Linked DNA regions of Homo sapiens: region 2 is linked to region 1. A link means that fine-mapping ties the variant in region 1 to the expression of a gene that starts in the linked region. Tissue or cell type: cerebellum. Region 1 holds a variant in brackets; the other region holds the start of a gene. All regions are shown on one strand. Distances are from middle to middle.

The links. PIP is the estimated chance that this variant, and not a neighbour inherited with it, causes the effect.
Region 2: MRGPRE starts here. The variant in region 1 is fine-mapped to the expression of MRGPRE in cerebellum (GTEx, PIP 0.99).

Annotation. Positions count from the first base shown.
Region 1 is chr11:3,205,174-3,213,278 of GRCh38, reverse strand. No RefSeq gene overlaps it. Among named protein-coding and RNA genes, the nearest start is that of MRGPRG-AS1, 9.1 kb to the left of the region's middle. The variant G/T (reference allele first, on the strand shown) is at 4,040.
Region 2 is chr11:3,228,906-3,237,010 of GRCh38, reverse strand. It overlaps MRGPRE (MAS related GPR family member E), which reads left to right and starts at 4,594. Exons shown (of 2, transcript NM_001039165.4): 1 at 4,594-4,870.

The DNA of each region.
Region 1 (8,105 bases):
CCAGTTGTTCTGGTAAAACCCCTTTTCCCATTGGATTGCATTGGCATCTGTATTGTAAATCAACTGATTGTATAGGGTGGGTCGACTTCTGGACTCTATTCTGTTGACTGCTCTATTTCACTGTCCTTCTATCAACACCGCACTGTCTTCATTACTGCAGTTTTACATTAAGTTATGAAATCAAGTGGTGTTACTCCTACACTTTTATATTTCTTCTTCAAGATTTACATTTCTATATAAATTTCAGAATCAGCTTGACAGTTTGTGCAAATGTCTACTGATTTTGACTGGGATAGCATTGACTCTATTCAGTTACTCTGGATCAACTTATGGAGAACGGACGTCTTGGCAACATTGAGTTTACCAATTTATGAACATGGTTTTTCTCTGTTTATTGTGGTCTTCTTTCATTTCTGTCTCTGTAGTTTTCACTGTAGGTGTGTTATACATTTCAGGTAAAATGTATTGCTAGTTATTTAAGGTTTCTCAATGCTATGTAAAAATAATCTTTTATTTGCTTTTTCCAATATTCATTGATAGTTTGTATATTGTTTGTATATTGATAGTTTGTATTATTTTTGTATATTGACTTTGATTTTTTTATATTTATCTAACAGCTATCCTGTGAACTTGCTGAATTCACTTATTCTAATAGTCTTTTTGAAAACTGCTTAGGAGTTTCTACGTATACAATCAAATCATTTGCATGACATTATTATTGTAAATAATGAATAATGAATAATTATTGTGAATAATAATTAAAATGATGCATGATTAATAGTGATAAATATAAGAATTAGGAAAATTTTAATAATTATAATTAACACATGATTAATAGTTATTATAAATAATAATAATTAGAAATAATTTTACTAATTCCTTTCTGGTCTTTGCACTTTTTGTTCTTTGTTTTATATCACTCATTAAGACCTCCCATACAATGTTAATAGAAATAGTAAAAGTGGACATCCTCACCTCATTCCCAACCTTTCAGGAAAGTGCTCAATGTTTTGCCATTAAACATGTTAGCTGCAGGCTTTTTGTATGTGCGCCTCATCATAGTGATATGATTCCCATCTATTCCCAATTTTCTGACTTCCTTTAATCACACATAGGTATTGAATTCCATCAACTTTTTGTTCCTTCATTTATTAATGCGACCATGCAGTTTGTCTTTGTTAGTCTGTTAATGGGAGGAATTGCACTGATTTATTTTCAAATGTTAACTTTGTATTCCTTGGATAGTCCCTGTCACGCATGTCCATGTGAAGAGACCACCAAACAGGCTTTGTGTGAGCAATAAAGCTTTTCAATCACCTGGGTGCAGGTGGACTGAGTCTGAAAAAGGAGTCAGCAAAGGGAGATAGGAGTGGGGCAGTTTTATAGGATTTGAGTAGGTAGTGGAAAATTACAGTTAAAGAGGGTTTTCTCTTGCGGGCAGGGGCAGGGGTCACAAGGTGCTCGGTGGGGAGATCATGAGACTCGTTGTCCAGGGGAGGAATGTCACAAGGTCGTTTGATTAGTTGGGGTGGGGTAGGAACAAATCACCATGGTGGAATGTCATCAATTGAGGCAGGAACTGGCTATTTTCACTTCTTTTGTGGATCTTCAGTTGCTTCAGGCCATCTGGATGTATACGTGCAGGTCACAGGGGATATGATAGCTTAGCTTGGGCTCAGAGGCCTGACAATCCCCACTTGGCCATGACATATTATCCTTTTTATATATTGGTGGATTTGATTTATGAATATTTTGAAATGGGTATTTGCATTTGTGTTCATGAGAGAGGTTGGTGTCTCATTTATTTTCTAGTGATGTCCTTTTCAGGTTTGGGCATCAATTATTTCCTCTTGCTCAACTCTGTGTAAGAGTTTGGATAAAACCAATATTATTTCACCAATGAAGCCAATTGGGTTTTTGTGAACAGGTTCTAAAACACAATTTCAATTTCTTTAACAAATATAGGGCTATTCAGATTCTCTTTTTCTTCTTGTGTCAGTTTTCTTTTTCAAGGAATTTGTCCACTTCATTTTATCTGAGTTTGAATTTGTTAGCATAAACTTGTATACCATATCCCCTTATTAATCTTTTATTGTCTATCAAATTCACATATCTCTTTTTTATTTTTACTATGGGTACTTTGCATTTTCTCCTGAAAATTCTCATTAGGGCTTTATCAATTTTAGTAATCTTTTCATAGAACCAACTTTTATTGATTTTTCCTATAGTGTTCATCTGTTTTCTATTTAATTTCTGTTTATCTGTATTTATTACATCTTTCTGTCTAAATCATGAAAGTTAAATTTGTTCTTTTTTTCTAGCTTTTTGAGTTAAGCAGCTTAGATAATTTTTTTAAATCTTTTCTTGTAGGCTGCATAATGCTCCCTACCAAGATGTTCACCCACTTGTAATATAGAAACACTCCATATGAGAGCACAGATTACCAGAATAGGCATTTTTTCATGATGCAACAATATGCTGCCTACAAGAGACACATTTTAGATTGAAAGGCACAAATAAGTTAAATGTAAAAAGATATAAAATGAGGCTGGTCACAATGGTTTATGCCTGTAATCCCAGCACTTTGGGAAGCCAACACAAGAGGATCACTTGAGCTCAGGAGTTTGAGACCAGCCTTGGCAACACAGTGAGACCTTGTCTCTACAAAAAATAAAAAATTCACCAGATGCAGTGGTGCACACCTATAGTCCCAGCTGCTTGGGAGACTGAGGCCAGAGGATCCTTTGAGCCCAGGAGATCAAGACTGCAGTGAGCTGTGATCACACCACTGCACTCCAGCCTGTCTCAATAAATTTTTATTTCTATTTATTTATTTATTTATTTATTTTGAGATGGAGTCTTGCTCTGTTGCCAGGCTGGAGTGCAGTGGTGCAATCTCAGCTCACTGCAACCTCTACCTCCTGGGTTCAGGTGATTCTCCTGCCTCAGCCTCCCAAGTAGCTGGGACTACAGGCACATGCCACCATGCCCAGCTAATTTTTGTATTTTTAGTAGAGATGGTTTTCACCATGTTGTCCAGGATGGTCTTGATCTCTTGACTTTGTGATCCACCCACCTTGGCCTCCCAAAGTGCTGGGATTACAGGCAGATATAAAATGATATTCCATGTAAACAACAACCAAAAGAGAGCTAAAATGGTTATAATAATATCAGACTAAATAAATTTAATTTAAAAAAATTGTTACTAGAGACAAACAAGGACATTATACCATCATAAAAGGGTCAGTCCATCAAGAGATACCACAACTATAAACATATATGCTCGTGGTAGGCTAAAAACAAAGCCCCCTTAAAACATATGCATGTCCTAACCCATGTAACCTGTGAATGTGAACTTCTATGACAAAAGGGACTTTGTAGATATGATTAAATTAAGGCTCTTGAGATGGATAGATGATTTTAGATTATCTGGGTGGGCCCAGGGTAACCTCAAGCGTCCTTGTAAGAGGGAGGCAGAAGATCAGGGTGAGTAGGAGGAGATGTGATGATGGAAGAAAGAGACTGGAGTGATGTGAGGACAGGGTTATGAGCCAAGGAAGGCAGGCAGCCTCTAGAAGCTGGAAAAAGCAAAGAAGAGACTCTCCCCTAGAGCTTCCAGAGGGAGTGCAGCCCCATGGACACCCTGGTTTTAACCCGGTGAGACTGGTTTCAGACTGCTGACCTCCAGGACTGTTAGATGATAAAGGCATATTGTTTTAAGCCATTGAGTTTGTGTTCATTTGTGACATCAGCAACAGGAAATTCATACAGACCATGTCCTTTCCAGCTTCTGCCTTCTTTTATTTGCTCTCCTGTATCTTCAAACGGTTGCTTTTGATTCTTCCCAGAGTTGACAGTTATTTAATAACAGCAGGACTGCTCTGATGTCAGCTACCCTACCATTACCAGAAACAGAACTCATGTTACCCTTTCTAAAATGAAAAGGATATTCTTGACTTCCAAAGCACATGGGTCCCCAAGGGTTTGCAGATCTGTACCTATCTCATAGGCTGTGTGAGGGTTAAATGAGAGAATTCAC[G/T]GCACAGGTGGTTTACAGGAAGCTGGCATGAACTGAGCCTTCAGGCATGTTGGTTATGGTCAGAAGAATAAAAGGGAGTCATCCAGGCCTACAATTTATAGGTGCATTCACAGGACTTAATGACAGGCTGGGTTTAGGGGTGCCTTGTACAGGCTGTTCCTGGGACATCCTCCCGTTCCCTTCTCCTTGTCTGTCACTGCCTCCTCCTCCAGGCAGCCACACTGCCAAGTCAGTTTCTTCCTTATGTGGACACCTGTATGTAAGCACAGTCCCAGGCAGGAGCTGAGGGTTTGCAGAATAAATAGATGCTGGATCTGGAGGGAAACTGTTCTAAAGTCCAGGGAGGCCCTGTGTCATTCCACCTGCACTGCGTCCTGGCATCCCACCTACTGGCTGACCTTAGCCAGCTAGAGCTTCCCAGAGACCCATCTGTCTGCACTGGATTCCCCTCCAACAGCTACAGGCCCCACAGCAGGGGCCCTGAGTAAAGACCCAACTCCTCCAAATTGTGTTGAGCTGCTGCCAGAAGACGTTTCATACCTTGAGACCACCTGGCATCCCTAGTGAGCATCATAGAGACCCTGCTTGGCCAGAGAGCTCACCACATGCATCACAGCAAAGGGCAGGCCCTCACGGGCCATCCCCTTGGGCCAGAGGTCAGCAACTGTTGACCTACAGACCAAACCAGTGGAGCCTGCAGATGCGCTTGGCTGGCATTCAGTAATTAAAGTCTTTTGGCGTTAGTTGCCAGCACTGAACAATAAGAAGATTTTACATTAAAATCCAGCTTTCTAGCCCTCCTGAATATCAGCGGCTGGCAGACCTGGCCCTCAATGCCACCTGGCCACAAAGGAGGAGTTGGAGAGAGTCTGGGGCTTCAGGCAGGCATGCCCTCCACCCCCGTGAGCCCTTCTCTACTGTCACCCTGAGTCCCAGGTCACCCATCATGGCACCGCACTGTTCATTTCTAGATTGAAGATATAATTGAGTGGGTTTTTTGCCACCATTTTTTGTGAGAATGGGGAAAAACAGATCCAGAAGCCTCTTGTTTCAGGAAAAAATTGGAGCTGGCCTATTTCTTTGTGGATATAATGAGTAGATAACAAGATGTGTCTGGCACTGAATTCACCTGCCATGGTAAGAATTCATCCCCCTTGGTCTGGACCCCATCCTTCTGCAATGGAGAAACTGAGGCCCAGGCAGGGTGAGACCGGCCCAAGGTCAAACAGCAGCTCAGCAGCGGTGCCTGGGGACCTAGGTGTCACCCACAGCCTCCTCTGACAGGTATGTGAGGACATCTGTAATTCTCAGAGCCACACACCCCAGGACTCTGACGAGGACTTTGTTTCAGTCTCCCAGGGCCTGAGGAGTGTAGTAGGCTCAGGCCTCCTAGAGATATGCTGTCCCAGCCCTGTCCCCCAGACAAACTTGTGGGGCTTCAGCAAGGGTGGCAGATGGCCCGTAGCTGGGCTAATGGCCTGGAAAAGGCTGCCTGCAGGAGGAGGGAGGCGGCTGCAGAGACACAGAATAAGAATACTTGACAGTGTCCTGTAGGGAGCCAGTCCCAGTCTCGCCAAAGAGGCCAGGAACCCGGAGCAGACAGATGGAGCTGTCCTCTCTGAAGCCAGCCAGCCTGGCCATGCAAGCTTTCCTCCTTTTCAGCATGTCATCACGAGGCTGCTCAGCATATGCACAGGGAGAGGGGCCAAACCCCTGCACAGTGTGGCCTTTTGGAGCTGATTTGCAGATAGGGCTATCCCCACCCCCAAAATATCGCCTCCACTGTCCTTCATAAGATCTGAAATTTCACCATTAACATCACACTTTGGGGGTAAGGTGAGACAGACGGAGCTACCAAATTGGAGAGCTAAATGGCAGGTCCCACACATGGGCTGGGACCAGGGCTGGCCAGAAACCATGAAGTGGGAAGAGCAGGTTTTCAAAATGTCACCCCAGCTGCTGTGCTGAGAGGTAGTGGGGGACCAACTAGACCTCCAGGAAAGCCCAATGCCAGTGATGCCACCTCACACCAGGTGCTTGACATAGCACCCATTTCTCTTATCATCTTAACTTCACCATCACCATCCTCACCATCACCATCCTCAACATCACCATCATCACCATCACCATCATCATCACCACCACCATCATCATTTCCATCACCATCATCATTACTACCATTCTCACCATCACCGTCATCACCATCACCATCATCACCACCACTGCCATCATCATCATCACCATCACCACCATCAACATCACCATCATCACCACCACCACCATTATCACCACCATCACCACCACTACCACTATCACCATCACCACCATCATCATCATTATCACCATCATCACCACCACCGTCATCACCATCACCATTACCATCATCACCATTATCACCATCATCACCATTATCATCATCACCATCATCACCATCACCACCATTATCATCATCACCATTATCACCATCATCACCACCACCACCATCATCACCATCACCACCATCATCATCATTATCACCATCACCACCACCACCGTCATCACCATCATCATTACCATCATCACCATTATCACCATCACCACCATTATCATCATCACCATCATCAGCACCATCACCATTATCACCACCATCACCATAACCATCATCATCATTGTCACTCCTCCTCCTTCTCCACATCCTCCTCAAAGTATTCCCAACTCTCTGCCAAGGAAAAAGGGATGAGGGAGAAAACAAGCCACCCATACCTCCTCCACACTCCACGCCTCGGCCCACAGCCAGCCCTACACCACCCTCCATGCACCTCGGTTCACGCTCCTTACACCCGAGCAACCTCCTCTACTGGGCAGGTCTCCAAATTCCCCTGCTTTGACGCCATCAGTCTCTACATCCTGCCCTGAGAGCAGCCTCCCTGGCAGGTGTACTCACTTGTATCCAAGCTCAGGTACACCTGGAGTCAGGGGCCATGTTTCTACCTTGGGGCTCCCAGGACTGGGTGCAGGCCTGCCAGGGGTTCAGCCACTGCCCAACACAAGTGGGGGAGGGAGAAGGGAGGGGATGAGAGGGAGGTGAGAGGAGGCAGGGGATGGAGCCAGGGAAATGAAAAGGGAAGGGGGGGAGGGGGATGGGGAAGGAAGTGGGAGGGAGGAGAGAAGAGAATCACGGAGAAAGGGAGGGGGCAGAAAGGAAGGAAGGGAGGAGTGTGGAAGCCAAGGAGAAAGGAGGGGAGGGGAGAAAGGGAGGGGACAAGGTGCCTGAAGAATAGCCAAATATTCGCTCTTGGCTCAGACTCATGAATTCCCTGGAAAGTGAAAACTTCCCAAGCCACACGCAGCCTGACTAAGGGCCACTCACAAACCCTGTGGCTCTCTGAGGGTGGTTTCATTCTCTCCCACAGAGAGAATAAAATGTCTGCTCAGCTGAATAAAAGGAAACCAAAATCACAGTGAATCTCCCTGTTATCCCCTGTTCTTGAGACTGGCAGGTTTTCTCTCTTCCTCCATAAACTAAATGCATCCTCTGTGTCCATTGAATCACGGAGGACACTGTGGCTAAAGTCCATTGCAAGAACTTCGAACTCTGGAGCTCAGGGCCAGCAAGCCCTAGAGAAAGCCACACTGCAAGCAGCTCCCGGCCCCAGGACCTGCCACGGAGTTTGCATGGCTGCAGTGGGTGTGAAAAGGCTCAGGATGTGGCAGCTGTGCTGTGTGTGTGGTGGTCCAAGCCCCTGTCCCTCAGACCTGCCCAAACTGCATTCCCCGCCCCTCGTTACCACTGGGTGGTGCCCCCAACCACCTTGTCTCCTTATCAGTGGGCAGGACGCTGGCGATGACCCACACTCCGCTTGGTAAAGTTGGTGGCATCTGGAAGGTTCCAGCTGGCCCCTCTGACTTCTATTAGTGCACAGGACGTCTGTCCTGTCAGGGTTCTCTGCTGAGGCCAGACGGGGGAGAGTCTGTGCAGGGACGTAGGCACTCTCGGTGGCTGATGCGGGGAGCCCCTGGCCCTGGCCAGTGAGTGCAGAATGTCCTAGAATGCCACGATTCCCCAAGATGGACAAGATGAAAACCG
Region 2 (8,105 bases), 24 kb before region 1:
AAATCAAAAGTTTGCAGGACAAAAAATTCTCTTCTCTCACTGTATGCCCCCCACCCTGCTCTAAAAAAAATTATGTTTTCCAAGACTGACCAAAAAAGAAGCTCATAAACTGGCATCTTTTAAACCACTCTATCTTGCCATCCTTACGCACAAAAATGCAGAGACATAGTCTTCATCTATACAAAGGTTCTGGAAGAAAAAGCAGGAAAAAGTCCAAACAATTCAACTGATATAAATTCCCTCACATTTAAAAAAAGCAAAACCCCAGTTACACCTTATAAATCCTTCATCATTCTAAGATAAACTCAAATGGCTTACAATTCTTCCTTATATTATATGAAGTGTTTTGAGCCTATGTTCATGACAATATTGGTCTGTAGTTTTTTGTTCTTAGAATGTCTTTGTCCAGTTTGTATATCAGATTATTAGATTAATGCTGGCCTCCTAAAATGAATTGGCATGTTCCTTACTCCTGTTTTCTAAAAGAGTTTTGCAGGGTTGGGATTATTTATTTTTTGTCTATCTTATAGATTTGCCAGTGAAGCAATTTGGAACTAGAGACTTATTTGAGAGAAAGTGTTAAATTACGAGCTCATTGTTTTCATATTGAGAACTATTCATGTTTTCATTGTGTCTTTCAAAGAATTTGACCATTTCATCCAAATTGTCAAGCTTATTGGCATACAGTTTATTTTTACATTCCACCTTTACCATTTAAGTATCTGGGACCGGTAGTGGTATCCCCTCTTTCGTTACCAATATATAGGTGATTTGCAGTTTCTCTTTTTTCTTTTCTTTTTTTTTTTTTTTCTTTTCTTGAGACAGGGTCTTGCTCTGTCACCCAGGCTGGAGTGCAGTGGCCTGATCTTGGCTCACTGCAGCCTCAACCTCCCAGGCTCAAGCCATTCTCCCACCTCAGCCTCCCTCTCTTGAGTAGCTGGGACCACAGACATGCACCACCATACCTAGACAATTTTGTTTTTTTTGTTTGTTTGTTTGTTTGTTTTGTATTTTTTGTAGAGTCAGGATTGTGCTATGTCACCCAGGCTAGTATCCTAGTATCGAACTCCTGAGCTCAAGCACTTTTTGTTTTCTTAATCAGTCCATCCAAGGTTATTCCATTTTATTAATCATCTTAAATAAAACACCTTTGATGTCATTGCTTTTCTCTACAGCTTGTCCATTTGCTGTTGTCTTGACTGCCAGTCTTACCTGTGTTGTTTTCAACCTTCTCCTGATTTGGCATTTAACCTGCTGAGCCCCTTTGCCTCTTCTGGCCTGTGTTGCAGTCCGGAAGCCACCTCCAGACAGAAAGTTTGGGTGAGCATAGGGCGTGCCCATCAGCTTCCATTTTCTTGGGACCACAGTCCTGCTCGGCCTGTTGTCTAAATTCACAAACCGTGTTTTGGTTTTTTAGATTTTTATAATGGGAGGGTGATTCCAGCCCCTATTGCCCCTTTAGAACCAGAAGTAGAAGTCGTCATCCTCTTTCTTGAAGCTCCAATCCTGTCACATGCCACAGTGCTCCTGGTCCCCATGAATGTTATGATGATCAAGTCCAATAGGCAAATGGTCCCCCAAGGCACTGACTTCAACATAACCCATCACAAGTGCTTGTTTGATTGATGATGAGCCACAGAGTGGCATGGATCACCAGTGTCACTGACCAGAAACTCATCACGACAGTCAAGGCCAAGGACATGACCAAACCAAGCCTAAATTACCATGTTTCCCCTAGGACCTTTCAGTACCAGCAGGGACACAGTCAGTAGGCAGAAGCTACCTATAATTTTGAAGGGATGATCTTAAAGAATTGTTCACTAGAGACTGAAAAACCAAACACGTACAAAGGGAACACTAAGGTATTAGAGAAGAAACAACTGCAAAAAGAGCCGCCACCCCGGGCACGGGGAACAAAGGAAGGAAGTTAAAACTATTGAAATTTAGGACCAGTGGGGACGACTAGAGTGTAATTCAGGCCCCTGAGGGGGCTCCCAGCCAGTTAGTGGCCAGTGTCTCCAACAGGAAACAATGGGTCTGGTTTTTCAAGTGCTGGGAAAACTGCAGAAGTCCACTGCTGCTACAAGGTGGAGAAAGTTGCTGCGGGCCAGGCATGGTGGCTCACAGCTATAATCCCAGCACCTTCGGAGGCCAAGGCAGGAGGATTGCTTGAGATCAGGAACTAGAGACAAGCCTAGGCAATGTATCGAGACCCTATCTCTATAAAGTTAAAAATTTAAAAATTAGCCAGACAAGCCTCTGGTAGCCTGGCACTTGGTGCATGCCTGAAGTCCCAGCTACTCAGGAAGCTGAGGAAAAAATGCTTCAGCTTGCAAGTTGGAGGCTGCAGTGAGCTGTGATCATGCCACTGCACCTCAGCCTGGCCAACAGAGTGGCATTCTGTCTCAAAAAGAGAGAGAGAGAGAGTTGCTGGGGCAACTCTGACAGGGAGTGAAAGTGAAGCTCGAAAACATAAAGGAAGATGGACTAATTGGAAAGAGTCAGACAATTGGAGGGGTAGGGGAACTGGAAGGAGTGGGACAATAGGAGGGGTGGGACAATTGGAAGAGTGGGACAGTTGGAAGGGTGGGACAACTAGAATGGTAGGACAATTAAAAAGGTAGAACAATTGGAAGGAGTGGGACAATTGGGAGGGTTGGACAATTGGAACGGTGAGACAATTGGAAGGGTGGGACAATTGAAAGAGTGGGACAATTAAAACTGTGGGGAAATTGGAAGGGTGGGACAATTGGAAGAGTGAGGCAATTGGAAGGCAGTACAATTGATAGGAGTGGGACAACTGGAAGGAGTGGGACAACTGGAAGGTGAGACCATTGGAAAGGTGGATCAATTGGAAGGTAAGACCATTGGAAAGGTGGGTCAATTGAAAGAGGGGGACAATTGCAAGGGAAGGGCAATTTAAAAAGTGGGACCATTGGAAAGAATGGGGCAATTGGAAGGAGGGGGACAACTAAAAGAGTGGGATAATTAAAAGGATGAGGCAATTGGAAGGCTGGGACAATTGGAAAGAGTGGGAAAATTGGAAGGGTGGGACAGTTGGAAGGCTAATGCAATTGGAAGGTGGGATAATTGGAGGGTGGGACAACTGGAAGGAGTGGGACAAATGGAAGAGTGGGACAATTGGAAGGAGTGGGACAAATGGAAGAGTGGGACAATTGGAAGGAGTGGGACAATTGGAAGAGTGGGACAATTGGAAGGAGTGGGACAAATGGAAGAGTGGGACAATTGGAAGGAGTGGGACAAATGGAAGAGTGGGACAATTGGAAGGAGTGGGACAATTGGAAGAGTGGGACAATTGGAAGGAGTGGGACAAATGGAAGAGTGGGACAAATGGAAGAGTGGGACAGTTGGAAGGAGTGGGACAATTGGAAGGGTCGGGCATTTGGAAGGGTGGGACAGCTTTAAGGTGTAAGACAAGTGGAAGGCATGGAACTTATGAAAGGGTGGGATGGACAATTGAAAGGAGTGGCACTATTGGAACTGTGGGACAACTGGAGGGAGTGTGGCACTTAGAAGGGTGAGATATTTGGAACGTGTGGGGCGATTGGGAGCACTTCCCCCACACCCCTGGGCCATCCTTGAGTGACCACCCACTGGTAGGGCCTCCCAGAGCGGTGGCAGAGCCCAGGCATGGTTTACAGAGCCTCGGGCACCTGGCAGCTCGGATCCTGGTTTAGGAAGGGAGGATTTGAAGCTGAGACACAACTCAGCAAGCGGCACTGCTGCCTGTCAGATACCAGCCCCGCATGGACGTCAGACACCAGCGCGACACATTCATCAGACACCAGCATTGCACAGACGCCAGACGACCTGTGTGCGGCCCCTCCGTTTTGGGGATGGAGGATGCCGGTGCCCTGGGGGATGCCTGCTGATGTAGTGACAGGTCAAAGGCCACGTGCGGGAAACTTGCTCTCACTTGGTCCGCAAGAGGAGAGGTCAGGCGGACTGCGCAGAGTGGGAAACGCTCCGGAGCAAATCCGTGCTGTTTCTGCACTCTTCTCTACCTCGGAGATTTTTCTAAAGACAAAGATGAGAAAAGAGTTGCTAGGGCCTGGACTCGGGGAGGAACAGAGGCCAAAAAATGACCTTGTTTTCCTTCTCTTGGCACGTCAATTGCGATCTCCCTTAAGGCAGGGCACTGGAAGGAAAGGCACGGTCTGAAACGGGACTTGAAATCACTGAGTTCACGAGGTCTCCCGGAGCCTGACGCTGCTGTATGTGTTTGATTCTCCTCGGCCGGGGACCGCGCGGCAGCTTCTTGACACCGGCCATCTACTCTGTGCCTGCGAACGAGGCAGGAGGGACGGCCTCACGCACATCCCCGCTCCTCCCCGCGGTCCCACACTGCCTGGAGAGCTGGGGCCGGCAGCCTGTGCTCTGCGGAGAGAAAAACACATTTTTGCTGCAAGGACAAGTTCCGCCGGTAGCCCGGCTCTCAGCCGGCCCCTCCGAGGCACAGATGGAAAGAAGTGGTCCCTAAAGGGCCCTACAGGGCTTGGTGTCTCTGAGCCAGGAGTGCCAGTGAAGTCACAGCTTGGCTGGGCTCCACCCAGAGATCTCGTGGTTTCCTCTGCCTGCCAGGCCTGCCTGGAAGGCTGCAGGGAGGTTCAGGGTTTCTCTTGCTGTCCACACCTGGGCGAGAGCTGAGCGGAAGAGAAGGGGTCCTCAGAGAGACACCTTCCTGACCGGCCCCATTCCAGCTGGATGCCATGTGACTCGGAGGAGCTGGTGGACACTGAACAGGAGCCGCCCAGAGGCTCTGGGGACTGGAGCCCTCGGCCGCGGCCAGGATAGATCCAAGGCCCAGGGTCAGAGCAGGCAGGGCTCGGCCAGTCCTCTGCCCCAAACGGTGAGTAGCGCAGGTGGCTGGATCAGGGTGGGTCTCTGGGGCCGGCCCAGGCGCTCGGCATTTTCTGGGCTCTTTTGCTGGCCAGATGGTGGCAGGGGTGGGGCGTGGGCAACAGCAGATGCTATCAACAGGGAGCTCTCCAGGCTGCAGCCTCCGCCCTCTGACGGGCCGCACCACCTGGTCCGCAGCCAGCCCTGGGCTGAGTCTGGAAGAGGACGATAGCTTGGGTGATGGCTCCCCAACCCCCCACCCCCGGTGGCTCTGTCTCCTGTCTGCCTTGCTTCCTCCATGATCTAGAGTGTTCCCTGCAGGTGCAGACTCTCAAGGGGAGTCATGGGGGCAGCCGGGGATAGGCCCTCTCCTCCCTGCCACACCTGGGTGCTCAGCCTCAGGGCTTCTCAGTATTGGCTGTCTGGGCGGGACACAGAGCCACTCCTGGACCACCCAGGGATGGGGAATGCTGTGCCTCCCTCCTCTTCTGTTCCATCGTCCTTCCCCGCCTCCTCCCCTCCTTCTCCTCCCCCTCCTCCTCCTCCCTCCTGTTCTCTTCCATCGTCCTCCCCCGCCTCCTCCCCTCCTTCTCCTCCCTCTCCTCTTCCTCCTGCTCACCAAGGATGCAACAAACTCCTCTACTCCCCACAGTCCTGTAACCCAACTGTGGCGACCCTTCCTACAGAGCTCTGCCTCCCTCCCGAGCCCCCAGTGGGGCACATGGTCCCACAGGGAGACCTCCTCCAGGGTCACAGCAGAGAGGGGGCAGCAGCAGGGTCTGGCTGAGCTCCGTGGCTCTAACCCCTTGTCCCCCTGTTCTCCTCCCTGTTTCCTTCTCTGTCCCCCATCTCTTCATGCCTCTCCCCTTCCTGCACTCTCCCCTCTCCCTCTATGTCCATCGCTTCCCTGCCATGCTCTCTCCCTGGGGCCCACCCATGAGGCCCGTGTCCTCCTCAGCCATGCAGGAGGTGAGATAGGAGAGGGACCATGGCCCTTGGTGGGCCACAGGCTGGAGAAACCCCACCTGTTGCTTTGGGGCTGGAGCTTGCTGGTAGATCCCGGAGATAGCTCCGTCCATGGGTGGACGGGACTTGTGCCTGGGAGGGGGTCCACCATCAACAGACTTAAGACCTCCCAAAACTCATCTCTGCCTCCCTCTGGGCCTGAGGGTTGGTGACCCCCCCAAGCTATCCTGAGTAGGAGAGCATCTGTCCCCCTCCCCACATCTCCCCACCTGCCATGGCAGTGATGCCCCGTCTGCCCCACTCAGGGTGTCCTCCTGATGATGCTGGCCCAGGTGGGGCTCCCTCCACCACCACCTCACCTCCCACCCATGGTCTGCCTTCCCGGGGCCTTGGGTGCTAGGATGGAGCACAGGGACAGGAGGAAGAGCCCTATATCTCCAACCAGGCTTGACTCCACCCGCAGGAGATTCAGACTGGACCACGGGCAGGACTCAGCTTCCTGAGGTGCTGGGACTGGGGCCTCCTCTCCACTGAGCCCCCCACCCCCATGCCCACCCCTGAGGCGGGGACAACCTCAGGCTGTCATTTCACCCCAGTCAAACAAAAGACCACAGAGCTGAGGGTGTAAGCCGAGGGAGATGACCAGCACCTCACGGGGTGGCTGGCACCTCTGTGCTCAGCGATAGCCCCGCCCCGGGCCACCTCTCCCCAGCATCCCAGCACCGCAGCGTCCCCCTGCATGGTCTCGGGTGCTCCTATCACTGGAGGGAGACAGCAGGGGTTCTGAGCACAACCTTGAGGTGGGAAGAAGCCGCTAAGACCAGCTATGGGGGTTTCTGCTTGTACCCCCACCCTCCTCACCCCAAACCCCAGCCCTCCCAGGACACAGGAGGACCAGCCACCACCAAGGTGGGAGGGGCACCTGGTGTCGGCCCCTGACCCCAGCCAGTCTCTGGGGAGAGGCAAGGCCCCATCCCCTCTCCCCCAACCCCAAGAGGAGAAGCTGGGGTCACCAAGCACTCAGAGACACATGACGGGCCAGGTAACCACAGGGGCAGCATGGGGCCGGGTATCTGCAGGCATGTCTCCGGCTCTGAGCACCTGGCAGTCTCCTAGAGTCTATTACTTGCTGTATTTCTGGCAAAGCTGTGATGAAGACTCCGATTCCAGCCTAGGTCCCCTGGGATTTGTGCTGCCTCCCAGGACTCAGTACCCCTCCCGCAGGACCTGTCCCCGTGAGCCGACTGCCTTGGGAGGGGATGGAGGGAGGCTGGAGACGCCATGGAAGCTCAGGGCCCCTCCCAGCCCCATCATCAGACAGCTCCCTCTTCTCCCCATGGGGAAAGGGCGGGCAACGTTGAGCAGGATGCAGCCTCCTCATGTGCCCCCTACCCTGCAGAGGGCTGGAGTCCTGCTGTAGGACAGCAGGGACATGGCCAGGGGAAAGGGAGTTTTCCTGTGGCCCTGATGTGGCTGCATGGTGTGACCAAGCTGGAGGGCTGGGGACTGGGAGCCCACTGGCAAACAACCCCTCATGGATGTCAAGGAAAGGCCTCAAAGAGTTGAGGGCTGCTTTAAGATGATGACGAAAAGCCCCACAGCCACTGTAAGCTGTCCCTCTGTGGTCACACCACTCATTAGACATGGGCGGTGCCTCCTGCTCTGCCTATGACTTTAAAATAAGTCATATTTTATTCTTTGGGAGTCCAAGGCAGGCGGATCACGAGGTCAGGAGTTCGAGACCAGCCTGGCCAATATGGTGAAACCCTGTCTCTACTAAAAATGCAATAAATTAGCTGGGCATGGTGATGCACGCCTGTAATCCCAGCTCTTCGGGAGGCTGAGACAGGAGAATCACTTGAACCCGGGAGGCAGAGGTTGCAGTGAGCCGAGATGGTGCCATTGCACTCTAGCCTGGGGCAACAGAGCCAGACTCCATCTCCAAAAAAAAAAAAAAAAAAAAAAAAAAAAAGCCCATTCTGAGGATCAAGGCACCACTAGCAACAGGGAGCCCCATGGGTCTCAGACCCTCTCCCCACATCTCCTGGTCCCTGCCCCCACCTGGCCTACAGGGACCAGCCCCACGGAAGGCTCTTGAGGCCAGGTAACCATGGGGAGGGGAGGAATGGGGACACCTTCCTCCTGAGTGTCTTAGGGAAGAGAAGCTTAGGTCAGGTGGCTGAGGGTGGAAATGAGAGAGGGGTCTTCTCCTGGAGGGTCTCACCATTCCCTTGGTCACCCACCCAACTCTCATCTCCCCTGATGTGGGGAGGAGCAGG